Homo sapiens: one gene and its partner. The protein of the gene in region 1 binds, or shares a complex with, the protein of each later gene. Each region holds a gene or a part of one and is shown on either strand. Other genes may lie near its edges. A codon is read from its position in the direction of its gene.

Region 1 (8,307 bases):
TGTCTGTGAAAGCCATGAGCTTCTCTCCCTCTCCCACTCCTCCTCTCCTACTTTCAGATGGATTTATTCCTTTTTTAAACAATGAACATCGGAAATGAGACTGTGGGGTGTGGTTTCTCTCTCTCTTTTTTTTTTAATTTTCTTTGTTGGGTTTTTGAGCAACCTCATGTCCCCTTCCCAGGGAGCTTTTTAATTTACCTCTTAGAACTCAAGTGGATGGGAAGTAGAGCACTATGTGTCAGTATGCTTTGTTTTCTGACACGATTACACAGCGAGGCTTTAATGCCATTTGGGTAGGTGAGCTTCTGCACTTCTGTTGTGCTGAACTGTATTTTCTTCTCTCATCTCCTCTTTGTCTTTTTCTCTTTTCCTCTCCTTCCTGCCTTCTTCTGCTGGCCTCCTTTTCTCTTTCTTTACCTTCCTTGGATTATCCTTCCAGGTTTTCATAATAAATTTATATTTTGTAAAAGGATTTTGTTGTACCAGGTTTTGCATCCTCACTGAATCTGACTGGCTTTTATTTTCCTCTCCAAAATCAGGTTTTTGTTCTCAACATCTTTCCCCATCATGTCTAGTCACTGTTTTGGTTTTGGCACCATCAGTATCAAATGTACAAACGGTTCTTGCTAACCAACACCAGGTATATCTGATGTTCAGATGAGTTCCAATAAAAATAATTTTTTTTTTTTTCAAAAGGTGTCTTTTTCTTGAGTGCTGGAGGGCTTCCAAGCAAGTCCAGACAGCTCTGTGTGGCCCCACACTAGTCTAGCTCTCATCTGGCCAAAGCTGTTATCTCATTTGTGTAATGGGAGTCCTTAAGGTAAATTTGGGGTCCAAACTTGGAGGGCTTTGGGGGCAAGAAAGTTGGTGTGTGAGTTCTGAGGTTGGAAATGAGTTCAGGTGTCTTCTTCCAGGGCAGCATGGTCCAGTGAGCACATGTAAGTTTGGGCAGTAGATCCTCTGAGCCTACTTTCTCTTCTACTCAGTGAGGATGCTGCTTCCTTGGCAGGTGATTGTGATGTGAAGCTTAGTAAGTCATAGACGTGCAGGTGTCTGGAGAGTCCTGACATGCAGTTGTGGTTTCGTTTCCTTTTGGAATCTTCAAAGGCAGCGATTTTCATATTGCCTCACACCCTGGCGGGGGCGGGGGGCTCTGGGACCACTGGGGGACCTGCTAAATCCTCTTCAGTCTGAGCAGTTCAGCCATTGTCAGTTTTAGTATTGTGTCTCTGTATTTCACTTGCAGAAAGAGCTTTGCTTCTATAAAGGACTTTAAAAAGTACTCCAAAGAGATCTAGTTTTGGAGTAGAGGGGAGATGTTTTCTCAAACTTAGGGCAGTCCTGAGATGCTCAGGCAGTAGCCCTTTTCTCAGTTCCCTTTGCGGGTCTTGGTCAGATGATGCCCTCTAGACCCGTGCTGTCCAATATGTAGCCGCTAGCCATGTGCAGCTGTCAGGCCCTTGCAACGTGGCTGGTTCGAGCTGTGATACACTGCAAGTGTAAACACAAACCAGACTTCGAAGGCTTAGTATGATAACAAAAGAAAAGGAGTGTAAAATATGTCAATAACTTTTTTATATATGTGTTGAAATATTTTGGGTATTGGGTTAAATAAAATATATTATTAAAATTCACCTGTTTCCCTTTTACTTGTGTAATGTGGCTGCTAGAAAATATAAAGTTACCTATGTGGCTTCTATCTGGACAGCGCAGCTCTAGACCTCCAGGACCAGCAGTTGTGTCACTGCCTCCTCTCCCAGGCCTCTCATGACCTGAGTCCAGGCACAGCTGGGAAGGTCAGCTGGCCGGTGGGCTGGCCTGGGCCCGGCTCCCTCACCTCCCTTCTGGGCTCCAGCCTTCATGGTGCCAGGACTTTCTTGTGTGTTAATGAGACTCTACTGGAGTTGGGAGCAGAGGCTCTGGTCCCCTGCTGTGTGCTAGTTATGTAATCTGTGCTGCTCAGAAGGGCCACTAGATGCTGCTCTGTGATCCCTGAAAGAACAAAGCCGACTTCCTCAGGAGTAAGGGCTCAGGCCTGCTCTATTTGGAACCCTTCTTGGAAGCTGTAGCTGGCCCCCGCCTTGACCTCCCTCCCTCGGGATGCTATGGGAAGTGGGGCATGCAGGAAGAGTGGACTCTCCGGCAGTCCACGGGCAGCCCAGCCCAGCAGGGAAGCTAACAAGCAGGCTGGCCCTTCAGGCAGCTAGAGATAGGCAATAGGCTAAGTAGGCTGATTGATGGGGGTGGGATTTGGAAATCTTCCCTGCAGTTCTATGATGAAGGCAGCTAGGAAGAAAACAGCTCTGCCTCATTCAACTGGGTCTGCCTTCTGGGTCCTTGGTTCTGCCATTTCTGGCAGTTGACTGTCCTTTCTTCCTTGCTTCCAGTTGGAGCAGTGATAGGAACTGGGGGTGGGGAGGTGGTGGTGGGTTGAATGAAAAGAGGAGCTCTGTGGTGTCTGAAAACCAGCATAACAGGCATGGCCTGGGTGATAGGAGCTCCTGGAGACCCCTCCCTTAGTCGCAGCAGCAAGTGGGCTGCCAGTGCCATCCCATTCCTGCTGTGCTGCAACTGTGACTTTGCCTTGGGCAAGTGTGAGGAGGCTGGTGTTCTGCCGAGAGCTCTGTTTGAAGGTGCTAGGGAAAGGCTGGCTGGACAAAGGTGAGAAGACACAGGGTATGGCCTGGCTTGAAAAGGCCCATGCAGAGGCATGCTGCTGCAGAGTGGGAAGCAGGGTAGTGGGGTGAGCTTGGTCCGCCTCCCCGTGAATTGGAATAGCTAGAATTGAGATTGAGAGTTAAAGGTAACAGAGTGGGCCCAGGTTTTTCTAGGGGGTGGATTTTTCTTTTTTTAGCCGAAGTGTCACTCTGTCACCCAGGCTGGAATGCAGTGGCACAATCTCAGCTCACTGCAACCTCTGCCTCCCGGGTTCAAGCTATTCTCCTGCCTCAGCCTCCCGAGTAGCTGGGATTATAGGCACCCGCCACCACGCCCAGCTAATTTTTTTAGTAGAGACGGGTTTCACCATGTTGGCCAGGCTGGTCTCAAACTCCTGACCTCAGGTGATCCGCCCGCCTTGGCCTCTGAAACTGCTGGACACAGTGTGGCCATCACGCCTGGCCGGGGTGGATTATAGGCTTCAAAATTTGGACATATTTTGGGAAGTGGAAAACATTTAACCTTGGCTCAACACTAGAATCTGAAGGGGGGCACAGAGCCAACTCAGGAGCTAGAGGCTCCAAGTAAGGGCTGAGGAAAAGAGGCTGGGGTTCGGCTTTCCTTTGAGAAGGAAAAGGGACACTTGGTCAGGGTCTCGAAGCAAATCGTTTCTTCTGGCTTTTTTTTTTTTTTTTTTTTTTTTTTTGAGATGGAGTTTCGCTCTTGTTGCCCAGGCTGGAGTGCAATGGTGCAATCTCGGCCCACTGCAACCTCTGTCTCCCAGGTTCAAGCGATTCTCCTGCCTCAGCCTCCTGAGTAGCTGAGATTACAGGTGCCTGCCACCACGCCTGGCTAATTTTTTTTGTATTTTTAGTAGAGACGGGGTTTCACCATGTTGGCTAGGCTGGTCTCGAACTCCTGACCTCAGGTGATCCACCCGCCTCGGCCTCCCAAAATACTGGGATTACAAGCATGAGCCACTGCGTCGGCCTCTTCTGGCTTCTTACTGTTACATGCAGGAGGGTTGAGGACAGCTCCATTTGAAGAGCAGGTAGGCTTGTACACTGAGGAACATTCACAGGGAGGGGCGCACTGAGCTGGGGGCCTGCCTTCCTCTTCTGAGTTCCCATAACAGCTGTTGTGGATGTTCTGAAAGGCTGTGGACAAAGTAGCCCTCTGGGTACAGAGCAATGCATTTTCCACTGTATGCCTTGCCCCCCAAGGTTCCTAAAGCCTGGAATTCCTATTGACAGAAATCTGAGTGGCACATAAACAAAACCCAGCACTTTCTGCCTTGATTGCACCATTTTGAATGATGCCAGATTCCCTTTCTGTTCCCCCTAGGACAGTTGACAGGGCTGGTGAAAGCCTAGTCGGCTGGAGTGGTCAGGTAACTGGGTGGCATCCTCTCCTCTGGAGAGCCACTCCCTCATCTCTAGGTCCAGAGATAATCTGGATTAAGACAGGGCTTAAGTTTCCTGTTTCCCAGGTTTGTGGTCAGTTTTGACTCGATCTCCAGAAACAAGGTAAAATAGTAAATGAACAACAGCCTTTGTGAAGGATCTGGATTCACATCTGACAGGAACAGCTTTCAGAAACAGAATTTTACTCAATTTCGCTAGCATCAAGTTCTCAAATTATACATACTTAGAATTGAAAACGTTTAAGAGGGTCAGAAAGCTGGCCGGAGGGGCAGTTGCTTCAGCTTTAATATGACAAATAAGAGGGCGAGTGGGAACTTAGAGGTCATATTTGTGACGGGCTCAGGCTTGGCTACGGGCCACGCTTCTCTGGCTTGGATCTCTGAGGCCCACTTCGGCCGCGGTCATCTACCCATGATGAGGGAACGGAGGCCCCGGAGGGGTGGCCAGAACCGATTGGACTGTCCACTCGAGGTGCGCGTGGCACTCGGGAGGCCTCAGTAAAGGCGTCGCCTCTCCCCGCCCAGGGCCTTCTTCCCCGCGCTCCCTGGCTGCTTTCCACAGGGACGGGGATGTCAGGTGGAAGGAGGGAGCTCCGGACCCTGGCCTCGGCGGAGGGCTCCTCACCAGGCCAGGGCGGCAGCCTCAGAGAGGGCGGGCCGCGCGCTGCCAGGGCAGGGACTCGGCCGAGAGTGCCCCCGCGGCCGGCAGCTGCGGGCGCCGCGGCGGGAACAAAGGCAGCACGTGTCTGGGCGGGACGCGGGCGGGGTCGGCCCTCGGCTCCGCCCTGCTCGGCGCCCGCCCCGCGTCGGCAGAGTTGGGTTGCGCGGGCGCCGAGGACTCTCCGGCGGCCGGGCTGCTGTTGGGCGGCGGCGCGGAGCGGGCGGCGAGCTGTGCGGGAGGGGCGGCCCCGAGGGGCGGGGCGGGCCGACGCCGCGTGTCCCGCCGCAGCCGCGGAGTCCGGCTCCTAGATGGGGCCCGGCGCGTAGAGGTGCCTCCCGCTCGTTGCCGCGTCCTACCCGCACCGTGCGCGGCTCGAGCTGAGGACACCAACGGCCGCGACTCCCCGGCGAGACCAGGCCGGAGCGTGGACGGCGCGCGCGCCCCGCGAGGGAGGGCGCTGAGGCGCGCGCCGGAAGCGGGAGCGGGAGCGGGAGCGCGGCGGCGGCGGCGAAGGTGCGGGCGGCCGAGCGGGGGGCGGGGCTGCGGTGCCTGCAGAACCTTGGACAGAAGCTCCCTAGCTGCCGCCGCCGCCGCCGCCGCCGTCGCCGCCGCCGAGCGCGAGCCCAGCCGATCCCCGCCGAGCGCCCCCGAGCGCCGCCGAGCGCCGGGACCGCGGCGGCGGGGCCGCGGCGCGCATTGCGGAGGGCGCGGAGCGCAGGAGCTGCCGCCTGCCGGGTAAGCCTGCGCTGGGCGGCCGTCCTTGGCCCTGGGGAGCGGAGACCGGGGTCGCGCCCGTGCGGGGTGTCCAGGCGGGGGTCCTCGGCCGCCTCCGTCGGCGACCGGGCCCCTCCCGGCTGCGCCTGGGGACCGCAGCGGCGGCGGCGGGCGGGGGTGCTGCAGTGGAGGCGGCGAGGCTGCGTCGCGGGGGCGCGGGTAGGGCCCGGGACTGGGGCGGCGGGGTGCGCCGAGGCGCGGGGCGGAGGGGCGCAGGGGCGCAGGGGCGCGGCGCGGAGCCCAGCCTGGCGCTAAGAACCATCTTGTTTTCCAGGCAGATCCAAGGGGGCAGCACGCTTCCCGGGAGCGCCCCCGCCTCCTCTCCGGGGCCGCCGCAGGCTCGGTGAGCGGTTTTATCCCTCCGGCCGGCAGGCTGGGCGCGCAGGGGCGCGAGCCCCCGCCCGGCGCGCAGCAGCACCATGGGCACGGTGCTGTCCCTGTCTCCCAGCTACCGGAAGGCCACGCTGTTTGAGGATGGCGCGGCCACCGTGGGCCACTATACGGCCGTACAGAACAGCAAGAACGCCAAGGACAAGAACCTGAAGCGCCACTCCATCATCTCCGTGCTGCCTTGGAAGAGAATCGTGGCCGTGTCGGCCAAGAAGAAGAACTCCAAGAAGGTGCAGCCCAACAGCAGCTACCAGAACAACATCACGCACCTCAACAATGAGAACCTGAAGAAGTCGCTGTCGTGCGCCAACCTGTCCACATTCGCCCAGCCCCCACCGGCCCAGCCGCCTGCACCCCCGGCCAGCCAGCTCTCGGGTTCCCAGACCGGGGGCTCCTCCTCAGTCAAGAAAGCCCCTCACCCTGCCGTCACCTCCGCAGGGACGCCCAAACGGGTCATCGTCCAGGCGTCCACCAGTGAGCTGCTTCGCTGCCTGGGTGAGTTTCTCTGCCGCCGGTGCTACCGCCTGAAGCACCTGTCCCCCACGGACCCCGTGCTCTGGCTGCGCAGCGTGGACCGCTCGCTGCTTCTGCAGGGCTGGCAGGACCAGGGCTTCATCACGCCGGCCAACGTGGTCTTCCTCTACATGCTCTGCAGGGATGTTATCTCCTCCGAGGTGGGCTCGGATCACGAGCTCCAGGCCGTCCTGCTGACATGCCTGTACCTCTCCTACTCCTACATGGGCAACGAGATCTCCTACCCGCTCAAGCCCTTCCTGGTGGAGAGCTGCAAGGAGGCCTTTTGGGACCGTTGCCTCTCTGTCATCAACCTCATGAGCTCAAAGATGCTGCAGATAAATGCCGACCCACACTACTTCACACAGGTCTTCTCCGACCTGAAGAACGAGAGCGGCCAGGAGGACAAGAAGCGGCTCCTCCTAGGCCTGGATCGGTGAGCACTGTAGCCTGCGTCATGGCTCAAGGATTCAATGCATTTTTAAGAATTTATTATTAAATCAGTTTTGTGTACAGTATGTGTCTAGCAAAGCCACCAAGGGCCTCACCTTTCCCACAGTCTCTCCCTGGGGTTTTTTTCATCCCTGCCAAGAACTCTGGGCACTTTTGAACTCACGAGCCTTGCGCAAAACCCAGAAGATGTATTCAGAGCCACCCAGGCCACTGACCTCCCACTTTGGGGAACTCAAAGGACTGACCTGCCCCTGCCGCCTGTGCCCTTGCTGGGTCCAGGGTAGGCAAGGCTGCCGGCTGCACCCTGTATGGAGCTAGAGAGGGGCCTCTGGCTGCCTGGCCCAGGGAGGAATTGGGGTTTCTGGTTGGAGGCCCTTTTCTGGCTCCTGTGTGGAGTTATTCACTCTCCCAGAGGCTCCTGGAGCCAGCCACCCTAACTGAGCTGCCAGTGGGGTCGTGAGGCAAGATCCCCGCCACCCGGGGACATCTTCAATCTAGGCGAGGCGAAGCTGAGCGGGTCTAGTGGAAAGATTGTGTCTGGTCGTTTGACCACACACCGCCCTGATTTGCTGTTTTCTTTTTTTAGGGAGAAGGGCTTTTCTTTAGTGGAGAAATGGAACTCGCCCCCCTACCCCCTTGTCTGCTGCTCCCAGCCACGTTGGTGGTATTGGCCGATGAGCTGGTTTGACTCATTAATTTCTCTCAATTTGGGTCCCAGCTAAAGAGGTGGGGTGAAGCTGGGGACAGCTTTCCTGGGTGAGTTTTTCTTTTGAATAATGTAGTGCAGTCACCCTGTGGCAAATGCCAGGACAGCTGCAGGTGCCCATTAGCAACGCCTGCCTTCTGGGCAAGGTGAGGGATGCCATACCTTGAGACCAAGCCGGTGCCCACCTAAGGGCTAAGGCCTCTTGCTGGTGCACATGACATTTGTCCTGCAGAGCTGGGGGGAAGGCGATGTGGTGACCCCACCCCCACCCGTTAATTTAAAGCTGTTTCTAAACAGTTGAGTTTCTTCTAAAGAGGAAGCCTTGCCCAGCAAGGACCAGTGAGACAGCCGGATCTTGGAGACAATTACAAGACGGGGAGTGAGACTCCTGATTGCTCTGGAAGCCTGCTGATTTCTACAACTGATCATTTGCAGCTGCTGGTTTTGGTTTCCACCTTACCCTACTGGCTGTAAAAACACAAATGTGTACTTTATTGATTTTCTTTCTAATTCTCCCGCATTGGTGGCTTGGGACTTGGGAGAGGGAGCAAGCCTTCCTCCATGGCCCATCACTCGGCTGTGGAGAACAAAGACCAATGTGAAGACACTACAGAGGATTCTGTCTTCCAGGCCCAGTCCACTGGGGAGTGCTGGAATGGGGACCTGGGGTGGGGAGGCAGAGGGTCACTTTACATAGGATTAAGTTCGAGGTGGCTACCGATTTCAGCA
Region 2 (10,285 bases), on another chromosome or scaffold:
AGAACCCTGGCCCGCGTGCAGACTTGACCTGCGCCTCTAAGGCCAGCCGGGTCTGAGACGGGTTGCTGGGTGAGAGACCCAGGGTTCTCAAAGTTCCTCAACCGCTGAGGCTAAGCTACCTAGGTCTTCAGGTAACAGCCTCAACTCCCTCCCCAGGACTGGAAGACGTCTGATACCCCCACTACCCATCCCCCCCTACGACCATCATGCAAAGTCAGGGTAGGGATGGCAGCATCCTCCCAGTCTCCACACTCACACACGCTCACACCCCTGGTTGGCGAGGACCCTTGGCCGGAGCACCCAAGGCTGCCCAGGGAGGGAAGGTTGGGCTGGCGACCTGGGGGCCACACTCACCGTACAGAAAGAATCTGCGCCCTTGGCGGGGCGCCGAGGGGCGCTGCTCATGGCCGAATCTTAGCCCTTTTCGCTGTCGCTGCGGCTTTCAGGGCAACGAGGCGGAGGCATAACCTGGATGGGGGAGAGGCCTGATCACCATCGAGAGCCCTGGGAGGGCAGGAGCCACCACGCGCAGGCTGCGCTGCTGGGGATCCTCCTGGAGTATGAAGGGCCTCAGAGTGGCCCTTAGCGGCAGCCACAGCACAGAGGAGAGTTATTTATAGGAAGAAAAGAGAAGAACAAGGAGACAGGAGAGGACTGAGGCGAGGGGGGCCGAAAAGGGCCGAGAGGCTGAGTAGAGGGAGGAGGAGAGAGGAGGTGGGAAAGGCCGCAAGAAAAATGAGGGAGAAAGGAGTCAAGGCCCAGGCCCGGAGAGAAAGCAACAAAGATGAGGGAGGGAGTGATAATGAGCTGGGGAAAGAGGGGAGTGAAGGCCCAGGCAGACAACGGAGCCTCGCAGGGTCAGGGCACCCACCAGAGGTGGGCCTGAGACCAGAGAGGGTGTGGTGGGGAGGGTGAGACACCCCGTGGAGCCGGGGCCGGGCTGCCGAGACAGGAAGCAGACGAATGGAAGAACTCTGGAGAGAGCCCAAGATGCCCCTGCAGGGAGGGGGTGCCCCCTCCCCAGTACAGGCCGGCAGGAGGCTTCCCTCCCCCAGGTCCTTGGGGACCGGCAGGAGGGAAGCAGGCTGGCTGGGTGGAGGGCAGGAGCTCAACTCCACTCACTCACTGAGAGAGAGGAAGGCACAGAAGGTGGGCATGGGCTGGGCAGAGCTTTATAATGGGGGAGGGGCATGTGATGGGCTGGGAGGGGGTGGGCACCGCAACCTTGAGGTTCTGCCTCTGAGGGGCAGTCTGGATCCCGCCCCTCTAGAGCCTGGAGCCAGGAAAATCTGAGTGGCAGTGCTGCCACCCTCCTGACTGTGACTGTAGGGAGTCTGGGGAGGACACTGTGTGGTGGGGGCAGAGAAGGAGCTGCAGGAGGGAGCCCAATCCCTGCAAATAGGGGGCGCATTCCTAGCGGGTCAGCACAGGGGGCACCCAAGACTGGCAAAAAGTGACGGTACCCAACAACCCATGCTCCCAGTGTGTTGCTGGGGACTGGGGGTGCCTGACTTAGGAGTAAGACAAGTCAGTGTAGCGTCAAACAATATAGGTCTGGGGGGGTCACCCAGGATGGGGAGCCTGGCAACACATTCTTGGCAAGCACTCCAACTTGGCTAACCACGCTCTTCCCCTCCCCCTCAGCAGGCCTTCAGCCAGGGCGGGTGGTGTGGGTGAGCGTGAGTGCACCCAGTCTGGGAAGGGTGTGGGGAGAGTCCGCCCAGAGCACCTGCAGGCGCCCACTCCCACCTCAGGCTGTGCCCTCGTCGCGCTCCTCCACACTCCTCTGCACCCCCTCCCCTGCTGTCCCAGAACACAAAGCAGCTTCTGTCCAGAGCATCGGTGCCGATAATCCGGGTAGGGGCACATTCCCGGGACCAGCCCCGACCGGCCCAGAGGATTAGTATCTCTCCCCTTGACCAAGGGATTAGCACCTCGGACCCCCACTTGGGCATTAACCACCCCCCAAGTGAACTCGTAAATTCCGCAGCTCTTCCATGTGGGGCTGGCGGGGGAAACGAAGGGGGATAAAGTAGACCCTGGGTTTCAGGCAGTGCCGCCTCTCACACCCAGCACAGAACTTCCCGCCTGGACAAACCGACCCCGGGAGTCAGGTCCAACTCTCCGGGCTCATCTTTCCCATTCCCACCCAGCTGCTCCCTCTTCTGTCTGACCCCTTGTCCGACCTTACCCGCCACCCGCCTTTCCTGGCTTCGCCTCTCAACCCGGAGATTGGGGATGGGGGCCCCGGGCAACCCCCAGTCTGGGCGCCCCGGACGGGACTGAAGGACTATGCGGGGGGGCCGGAGGGGAGGGGTGGTCTGGAGCCAGCCGGGGAGTGGGAGGGCCGGCGGCGCCTCGGGGAGACTACCCCCTCCTGGTGGCAGGGGGCGCGGCACCCTGGCTTTAGGGAACTCTGAGAAGGGGACCCCGGAATGCCCGCTTCCGACCAGCACTCCATCCGCCTCCCCATCCTTCTCCCCAAGACCGCGGTTCCCCGCGCCCCAGTCTCCGCCCTTTCCTCCACTTCCACTCCCTCCCCGCTCGAGTCCCGAGTTCCCCCCTCTCCTTCCCCCTCCCTTCCTCCCTCTGCGGCCCTGGCCGTCCCCCGCCACCACCTCTCCGCCTACCCGCTCGCTCTGGACTTCGTGCCCCGGGGGTCTCGGGGTCTCTCCCCGTCCTCCGGCGCACTCGCGCGCTCCCGACGACTGCCCCGTGCCCACCCCGGGGCGCGCCCCCGCCGCTCCCAACTTCTCCCAACTCAACTTTCCCCCGCGCCGCGGGCAGGCCAGCCCCCTGCGTGCGCGCCCCCCGGCGCACCGTGCGCGGTCCCGCCTTCGCGGGTGGGGAGGCGGGAGCGGGGGCCGGGGCGGGGGCGCGCTTCCAGGCACAGCCCGGCACCAGGGGCCGCCCCCGCCGTCCCTCTGCCCCAAGCTTCTCCACTCGGGGCTCGGGAGCCCCGAGGATGCCGTCCCTTGGCTCCATTACGGCACCTCTGAGTGTAAAGGAGCCCTTCTCACGCTAGGGATCCCAGGCAGCAAAACGCAGGCACAAGGAAATTCGGGGAAGTCGAAACATAAACGTATCGGGGTTGAGATTCTCTTGCCCCCCTCAATAACCCCCGTGCCTCCAAGAAAGCCCCTGAGGGACGGGTGGCGAGTGGGTGAGAAGGGTGACAGGGGCTGGAGGCTGGCCGCCCGGTACCCTGAGCTGATCTGGGAGAGGGTAACTTGTTAGAGGCTCTCCACTTCCAGAGAGGGACAGAGATTCGCTGTGCTGGCCTCCTTCCTCTTGAATGGAACCTCCACACTGAACCGAACCCTAGGCAGAGCCATCACTTATCATTCAAGACCTTTGTGTGTAGTTCTTTTTTGCCCAACGAAATCACAAAGTCTTCCAGATAAGGAATACACTTTTTGCTTCTTTTCCCTTGTGTATGCAAAAGCATTCAGATAGAAACGAGTTAATTAACACGTGTTTAGCAGCAACTCTGGTTCCGGTGCTGAGGAGTGCTGTTTGGGATCCTTTTCCCTCGGTCCATAGCCCTCAAGAATGCAATCATGAGACAATTAGAGAGGCAGCGTAAGGGAATCTATAATCAGCTCCTTTAAGGGGTGAGGCAGAGGCTGCTGCAAGTTGAGCATCGGTCTGTGGTCTTGTCTGTGGAGGGGGTTAACCAACCTGCCTGCCACACCCTGGCTGACTCCAGTGGGCCCTGTTCCGGAGACTGGGGTCTGAGGGGGACCCCCAGGGCTCCACCCAGTTTTCCTCAGCATGTCAGAGTTCAGCGGCTAGAGTCGGGTGGGCTCCGAGACAACAAACGGGGCTCAGCAGAGAGGGGGTCTTTGGCGTGTGTCCCTCCACTAAAATCCAGCCTCGAAGGGGCACAGCTGTTCTCCCAGCCCTGCGGTCAGCTGTTCCCTGTGAGGTCATCATCGCTCACAGGCATTCCCCAGTCAATTCTGGGGTCACTAGGTGGCTTGGGGAGAGGTGGAAACCCGTGCTGAGGTCGTCAAGAGGCCGTTGGGAACACAATGCCACCAACCAGGTCAGCGCTGGGCCGCCAGTGCCCGGGATCTAGGCCGCCAAACCCCAAACCCCTAACCGAGAGCGCTCCGCCCCCATTTCCGCTGCATTCTGGAACGCGTAGTCCCGGAGCGGCCCTTTTCAAGAGGGCTGGGAGCACATAAAAGGAATAACAACAGCGGGGCACACTGGGAACCACGGCGCCGCGGCGGGGCGCCCGGAAAACGGACACGCGTTGCTTCCTGGGACTTGAAGTCCAAGGTTTGCCTCCGCGGTAGAAACGGAGCCCTGGAGTCGAGTGCTGCAGAGAGCGTGAGCGCAGACGGCTGGGGGTTGTAGTCTTCTTGTCCTCGGTCTCGGGCATTGCGGGGAGACCTAGTCGTTTTAGGACTACAAGCCCCAGAAGGCCCTGCGCGGGCAGACGGGGCGGGGCTGGAGGCTCAGGTGCCGCCTCCTCTGCAACGCCGGGGCCAGAGTCTTAAAACCGAGGGCCCGCAGGGGTCCCCGCGGCCGCCGCGATGCAGAAATACGAGAAACTGGAAAAGATTGGGGAAGGTAATGGAATCTCGAGATGTTCCTGCAAGAGCTCCTCTGCAGATCCTTCGGCATTCCTTGAAGCCCTGGCTCCCTTACCGTCAGCAATGCCTACAGGCTCCGATCTCAGCAGCGGCTGCAGCCCTGGCCCCCTAGCTCAGCACTCCGTGCAGACACCAGTCTTCCCCGTGTTAGCATTTCCCGCAGGGCTCTCACTCCAACCTTAGCGTTCCCAGTAGACCCGACCTCCCAACCGCGACACTTCCTGAAATTTCTCACCCCAGCCTCAGCAGCACTTGGACAACCTCACCCCGACCCCCAGCCTCGTTTCTTGCTGCAGACCTCCAACCTCAATATTTCTGCAGCCCCTCAGTCCTCTCCCAGACCCCTCCTCACTATTTCCAGACCCTTCCGGAGCACCGCCTTCATTTTAGACATCCTTGCCCTGGCAACCGCACTCGCCCCTCCTGCCGAGCCCCTGGAGCCTCGGTGGGCACCTTCTCCTCCCTCCCCACCTGCCACATCCTCACTCACAAAGCTCACCAACCTACCTTCACCCTGAATCCCTTCCCTTGCATACTGAGACGCTGCCTTCACCTCTCTCAGGAGGCATTTCCTGGCTTAGGGAAGAGTGCCGCATCCTCACCCTGACCCCTGACCTCCTTCCCCTAGGCACCTACGGAACTGTGTTCAAGGCCAAAAACCGGGAGACTCATGAGATCGTGGCTCTGAAACGGGTGAGGCTGGATGACGATGATGAGGTAGGACTGGGGAGTGGGATACGGCCTGGGGAGGGGTTTGAGGGCCTGGGCTGGGTGGGATCTGACTGCTGCCCACCGGCCCCCTCACATATGCAGGGTGTGCCGAGTTCCGCCCTCCGGGAGATCTGCCTACTCAAGGAGCTGAAGCACAAGAACATCGTCAGGTGTGCGGGAGGCGGGTGCTCCTTGCCGGTGTGGCCGCTTGGGGGAGGCGGGGGCTGACACTGGACGTCTGTCAGGCGGACCTGCCTGGCTGAGCCCTTCTTTTGCCCTAGGCTTCATGACGTCCTGCACAGCGACAAGAAGCTGACTTTGGTTTTTGAATTCTGTGACCAGGTGAAAGGCGGGGTTTGGAGGACAGTAGCCTTGGGAAGGTATAGGGGCCCAGATTGAGGTTAAACTCTGTCCCATTCCCCCACTCATATCCCTTTTCAGGACCTGAAGAAGTATTTTGACAGTTGCAATGGTGACCTCGATCCTGAGATTGTAAAGGTGAGGAGAGTGGTGTTGGGGGACCCCTCAGGCTGGGGTCGGAGTCTGCATTCGGTGTAAGCACCCCTTGGGCTCTAAGTTTGGGCCCTGAACAGGGACACTCTAGGGTGTTAGAGAATGAGAAAACCCTGTTTCTGTCCTCCAGGGGTCTCCAGTCTTAGTGAGCATTTTCACGTGGTCATCTTTGACCCGCACAGTGTCATTCTGATGTCAGTGATATTATTTACACTCGAGAGATGAGAAAATGAGGTTCAAGGAGATACACTCATTCATTCAACACATACTTACTGAATGCTTCACTGTGTGCCAGGTGCTTTTCTAGGCCCAAGACCAAATGCCTTGGTCCAGGTTCCAGGGGAGCCAGTCCTGAATGATACTACAGCACGATATTTATGTTGATGTTCACGGCGTGCATACTCAGATGCGGCCAGGAAGGGAAGATCAGCATGGGCTGGGATCTAGGCCGGATCTAGGATCCACCTGCCAAGGCCCATTAGGCTGTATGGTCCAGGAAGGTGGGGACCAGAGCCAGCTTCTTTACTTTGGTCCCTCTAATGCCTAGCACAGTATAAAGCAGGTCCTGGATGGCGAATGAATGGTGTCACTCTGAACCAGGTGCTGAAAGGTGGGTGGGGTGGAGCGAAGCACAGGGTGAGGAGAGGAGCCGACCCGTTGCTGGGCACAGTTGCATGTTCAGGGCGTCTGACTCCCTTCTCCCTCTCTCCTCCCAGTCATTCCTCTTCCAGCTACTAAAAGGGCTGGGATTCTGTCATAGCCGCAATGTGCTACACAGGGACCTGAAGCCCCAGAACCTGCTAATAAACAGGGTACTTCTTGGGAAGAAGGTGGGGAATGGAGAGGCTGGGGCCAGGGCACGGGGAGCACAGAGGGAAGAGGACTGGGAGGATGGAGTTGGTGCTGTCCCAAGGCTTTTTAAAGGCCCTTCTCCATGTCCCCTTCCCATTCCCTTCAGAATGGGGAGCTGAAATTGGCTGATTTTGGCCTGGCTCGAGCCTTTGGGATTCCCGTCCGCTGTTACTCAGCTGAGGTGAGCTAGAAGATGGGATATGGGATTGGGGGAGGGAGTCCCTCAGCTCCAACCCCAGGACCCAAAACATTATTTTCCTCTCCTCTCTGAGCCTCCTCCTCAAACCTCCTCCCCAGTCCTCTAAGTGGGAGGTCCCTTTCGGGGGGGGTCTCCTCCAGGTGGTCACACTGTGGTACCGCCCACCGGATGTCCTCTTTGGGGCCAAGCTGTACTCCACGTCCATCGACATGTGGTCAGCCGGCTGCATCTTTGCAGGTGATGTGCTGGGGTGTTGCAGAGGCACCTTCTTTCCCATTTGAGTTGACAAATAGGGTCTGGAGGGTCCCCTCTGGGGGAAGGGAGGGAGGCCCTGGGACTGGAGCTGGAAGGTCAGGGGGTACCTCAGAGTGAGGGGTCCTTCACATGTCACATCTTAGCCCCCTGTCTATCCCCCAGAGCTGGCCAATGCTGGGCGGCCTCTTTTTCCCGGCAATGATGTCGATGACCAGTTGAAGAGGATCTTCCGATATCCTTGCTTTCCTCTGCCTTGAGCCCTCTGGGAGGGGAGAGTCCATGGAGTTTTGAGCACAATGGGTGAGGGCAGTGATGGTGTGGGGTAGGGTGATGGGGTCTGTAGGGCTTCTCCTGAGGGCAAGGGGAGAGAGCAGGGGTGCTGGACACCCTGATTGTCACAGTGCAAATGCACACTGGAGAAGGTGTGGCTTGGAGACAGGCAGCGTGCCCTGAGGGGTGAAGCCGAGAGGGTGTCCCTCCAGGTGAGAGATGGATGCCAGGATGAAGGAGCCAAAGAGAACAGGACACATTTTGTGGGAGCAGGGCAAGGACTGTTTCATTAGGACTAGGACAGCAGCATGTGGGTTAGGTGATTGTCATGGGAAACGTGGCTGGATATGCGAGTGACCTGCCTGGGGCTGCTTCTGTCAAGCTCAAGCCGGAGGGTAAAGGGAGGGTGAGAAGTGGGCGGTGGGTATGAGGAATCCCTCCCCAGGAGGGGAAGAGGCCCTCACCCTGCCCCTGAAGATGCAGCTGTGGCCCTTTCCCAAGTGATCCTTGACTCCGTGGACACACTGCTGGGGACGCCCACCGAGGAGCAGTGGCCCTCTATGACCAAGCTGCCAGACTATAAGGTGTGATGGGGAATGTGGGGGTCATGGTTCATCAGGGTCACTCGTTTCACATTCCTAGCGCCTCCATCCCCCTCCCCCTACCTCTAGTCTGACCCTCCCTGCCTCTCCACAGCCCTATCCGATGTACCCGGCCACAACATCCCTGGTGAACGTCGTGCCCAAACTCAATGCCACAGGGAGGGATCTGCTGCAGGTAGGTGACCAGGGGTAGAGGGTGGGTCAGGACACTTGCCCAGTGGGACTACAGGAAGGCAGGGCTCTGGGCAGTGACCTGTCCTGAACCTGCCACCTCCTTTCCCCCATCTCCAGAACCTTCTGAAGTGTAACCCTGTCCAGCGTATCTCAGCAGAAGAGGCCCTGCAGCACCCCTACTTCTCCGACTTCTGTCCGCCCTAGGCCCCGGGACCCCCGGCCTCCAGGCTGGGGCCTGGCCTATTTAAGCCCCCTCTTGAGAGGGGTGAGACAGTGGGGGTGCCTGGTGCGCTGTGCTCCAGCAGTGCTGGGCCCAGCCGGGGTGGGGTGCCTGAGCCCGAATTTCTCACTCCCTTTGTGGACTTTATTTAATTTCATAAATTGGCTCCTTTCCCACAGTCTGGTTGATGTGGTGGTCAAGTGGCTCTACAGGGCCCATGGGCTGGAGGTGTCTCTGGTCTGTTACTGCCGGCCGCAATCCTGCTTCTGGCTCAAAGACAGCACCTTGCTCTTCTACTTTAAGAGGCCATGACCCTCACCCCTCACCCCTGGGGCAGGGCAGCACTGTCGCTGCACACCCCTTCCTCCCACCCTCCCTTCCTCTGCCCAGGAGGGCCTGATGTGGTCCCTCAGAGTGAGGGGAGCAAGGATGGGCTCCCCACCAGGGTGGAGAGGAAAGGGCTGGGCCTCTCCTTGTGGTTCTCCATATCTCAGGTGGATCCTCTTGTCCTTTCCCTCATCATCCCCCCCATACCAAGGCCTGCAGGCTGGCACAGGAGAGCCCCAAAGATATGGTTCCATCAGGAACACCCCCTCCCACTCCCTATTTGTCAGTTTCCCAATGTTTGGGGTCCAGTGAAAGAGAGGGAAGTTGGGCCTGTGGCTGGGGCCTGGTGTGTCCTTACTGGCAGGAAGAGGAAGGGAGGGCTCCGCCTACCCCCACCCCCACCCCCACCGTCTCAAGCCTGGGGCCTTTAGCTCTTGTGGGGAGGCTGAGGAGGCAGAACTTGTTTGTATGGAGACAGGCTGTGTGCCGCACTTGGTCCCAAATGTGGGAAAGGAGTCAGGATGTAAGGCAGGACACAGGTGTTCTTGAAAGTGGAGTCACCCCGTCTTCTCCCTGCCTCTTCTTGCTGAGCTCTGGGCAGAGTTTTCTTCCAGTTATACCTTTATTGCTGACTGTGATTCTGCACCTCACACCTAACCCGGGCTTGGAGGATACCTGTCCTCCCTTCTCTCTAAGATGTCAGTCGGCTAAACTCACTCACACTGAGGTGCAAATGACTGATAACCTCTTGCTACCATTCTCCCCTAGAGATTCATGGGGGTTCAAGGGCCCAGCTCCACATTTCAGAAGCCACGTCCAGCTGGATGATGGCTGGCAGAAGACTTCCAATGCCTAAGTTGGGCTGACCTTGGCTTGGCTAGTCTCTGCCCTGTAAGAGAAACAGCTGAGGCTGATGCATTAGGACTTTATTTGGGGTGAAGACGGAAAAGCTACGTGCAGGCTAGGCATGTCCAGGATGTCAGGGCGGGGCTCCGAGGACACAGACAGCAGGTCTAGAGCTGTGTGACAAGGTAGCAGGTGCGGTGGGAGGCGGAGAGAGTCTTGGTGACGGCACAGGGAGGGGTGGGAGGTCTTCGGAACAGAGCAGAGTGCTGGGGTGGGAACGGGCACACCCACTGTCCTGAGCCTGCCCCTGCCCTCCCTTGATTTTAGGGGGCCATTATGTGTTACCTGGGGCCCAGGCTGAGGTGGGGAACTTGGGTTCGATGGCTGCCCAGCCCTTCCTGAAGCTGTGTGAGGACGAGAGGGTCAGAGGTGGGGAGTGGTCCTCCTCCCAGGGACCAGTCGAGGTCACTGCACACCCTCCTGCCTGTTTCTCCTCAGCTGGGGCGGGATGGTGGTCTAGGCTTCAGGGGTGGGCCCTAGCACCCTTGGAGCAGGCAAGGGCTCCAGAAGAGGGGCTGTTACCAGATTGGTGCTGGAGTGCCTTTGGGAGTGCTGTCGGTTCCAGAAATATCCCAGGACCTTGTCTCGGAACACCTGGAGGCAAGCAGGATGGGAGGTGGCCAGTGCACACCTTCCCCCTCATCCTAGGGGC

What was found.
Region 2: the proteins of CDK5R1 (region 1) and CDK5 are in contact, whole or in part, in a crystal structure (PDB 3O0G), measured with the Homo sapiens proteins. Residues at the interface, in NP_003876.1 of Homo sapiens: Trp190 (codon at 6,503), Gln193 (codon at 6,512), Thr197 (codon at 6,524), Pro198 (codon at 6,527), Ala199 (codon at 6,530), Phe203 (codon at 6,542), Tyr231 (codon at 6,626), Leu232 (codon at 6,629), Ser235 (codon at 6,638), Tyr236 (codon at 6,641), Met237 (codon at 6,644), Gly238 (codon at 6,647), Asn239 (codon at 6,650), Glu240 (codon at 6,653), Ile241 (codon at 6,656), Ser242 (codon at 6,659), Tyr243 (codon at 6,662), Pro244 (codon at 6,665), Leu245 (codon at 6,668), Lys254 (codon at 6,695), Glu255 (codon at 6,698), Trp258 (codon at 6,707), Asp259 (codon at 6,710), Cys261 (codon at 6,716), Leu262 (codon at 6,719), Ile265 (codon at 6,728), Asn266 (codon at 6,731), Ser269 (codon at 6,740), Ser270 (codon at 6,743), Met272 (codon at 6,749); in NP_004926.1 of Homo sapiens: Leu37 (codon at 5,304), Asp38 (codon at 5,307), Glu42 (codon at 5,319), Gly43 (codon at 5,418), Pro45 (codon at 5,424), Ser46 (codon at 5,427), Ser47 (codon at 5,430), Leu49 (codon at 5,436), Arg50 (codon at 5,439), Ile52 (codon at 5,445), Cys53 (codon at 5,448), Leu54 (codon at 5,451), Lys56 (codon at 5,457), Glu57 (codon at 5,460), Val69 (codon at 5,607), His71 (codon at 5,613), Leu76 (codon at 5,628), Arg120 (codon at 6,590), Asn121 (codon at 6,593), Val122 (codon at 6,596), Leu147 (codon at 6,817), Arg149 (codon at 6,823), Ala150 (codon at 6,826), Phe151 (codon at 6,829), Gly152 (codon at 6,832), Ile153 (codon at 6,835), Pro154 (codon at 6,838), Arg156 (codon at 6,844), Cys157 (codon at 6,847), Tyr158 (codon at 6,850).

The regions. Positions count from the first base shown.
Region 1 is NC_000017.11:32,481,686-32,489,992, forward strand, and holds the start of CDK5R1 (cyclin-dependent kinase 5 activator 1), read left to right. Parts: upstream 1-5,307; 5' UTR 5,308-5,477; intron 5,478-5,790; 5' UTR 5,791-5,935; coding exon 5,936-6,859; 3' UTR 6,860-8,307. UniProt on the Homo sapiens protein: p35 is a neuron specific activator of CDK5. The complex p35/CDK5 is required for neurite outgrowth and cortical lamination. Involved in dendritic spine morphogenesis by mediating the EFNA1-EPHA4 signaling. Activator of TPKII.
Region 2 is NC_000007.14:151,052,108-151,062,392, reverse strand, and holds CDK5 (cyclin-dependent kinase 5), read left to right. Parts: upstream 1-4,495; 5' UTR 4,496-4,544; coding exon 4,545-4,581; intron 4,582-5,232; coding exon 5,233-5,321; intron 5,322-5,417; coding exon 5,418-5,485; intron 5,486-5,596; coding exon 5,597-5,657; intron 5,658-5,756; coding exon 5,757-5,813; intron 5,814-6,544; coding exon 6,545-6,640; intron 6,641-6,786; coding exon 6,787-6,861; intron 6,862-7,019; coding exon 7,020-7,116; intron 7,117-7,296; coding exon 7,297-7,366; intron 7,367-7,927; coding exon 7,928-7,988; intron 7,989-8,100; coding exon 8,101-8,181; intron 8,182-8,297; coding exon 8,298-8,384; 3' UTR 8,385-8,578; downstream 8,579-10,285. Other genes in the region: SLC4A2 (anion exchange protein 2), read right to left, coding at 355-405; ASIC3 (acid-sensing ion channel 3), read right to left, coding at 9,707-9,839, 9,919-9,977, 10,156-10,227. UniProt on the Homo sapiens protein: Proline-directed serine/threonine-protein kinase essential for neuronal cell cycle arrest and differentiation and may be involved in apoptotic cell death in neuronal diseases by triggering abortive cell cycle re-entry. Interacts with D1 and D3-type G1 cyclins.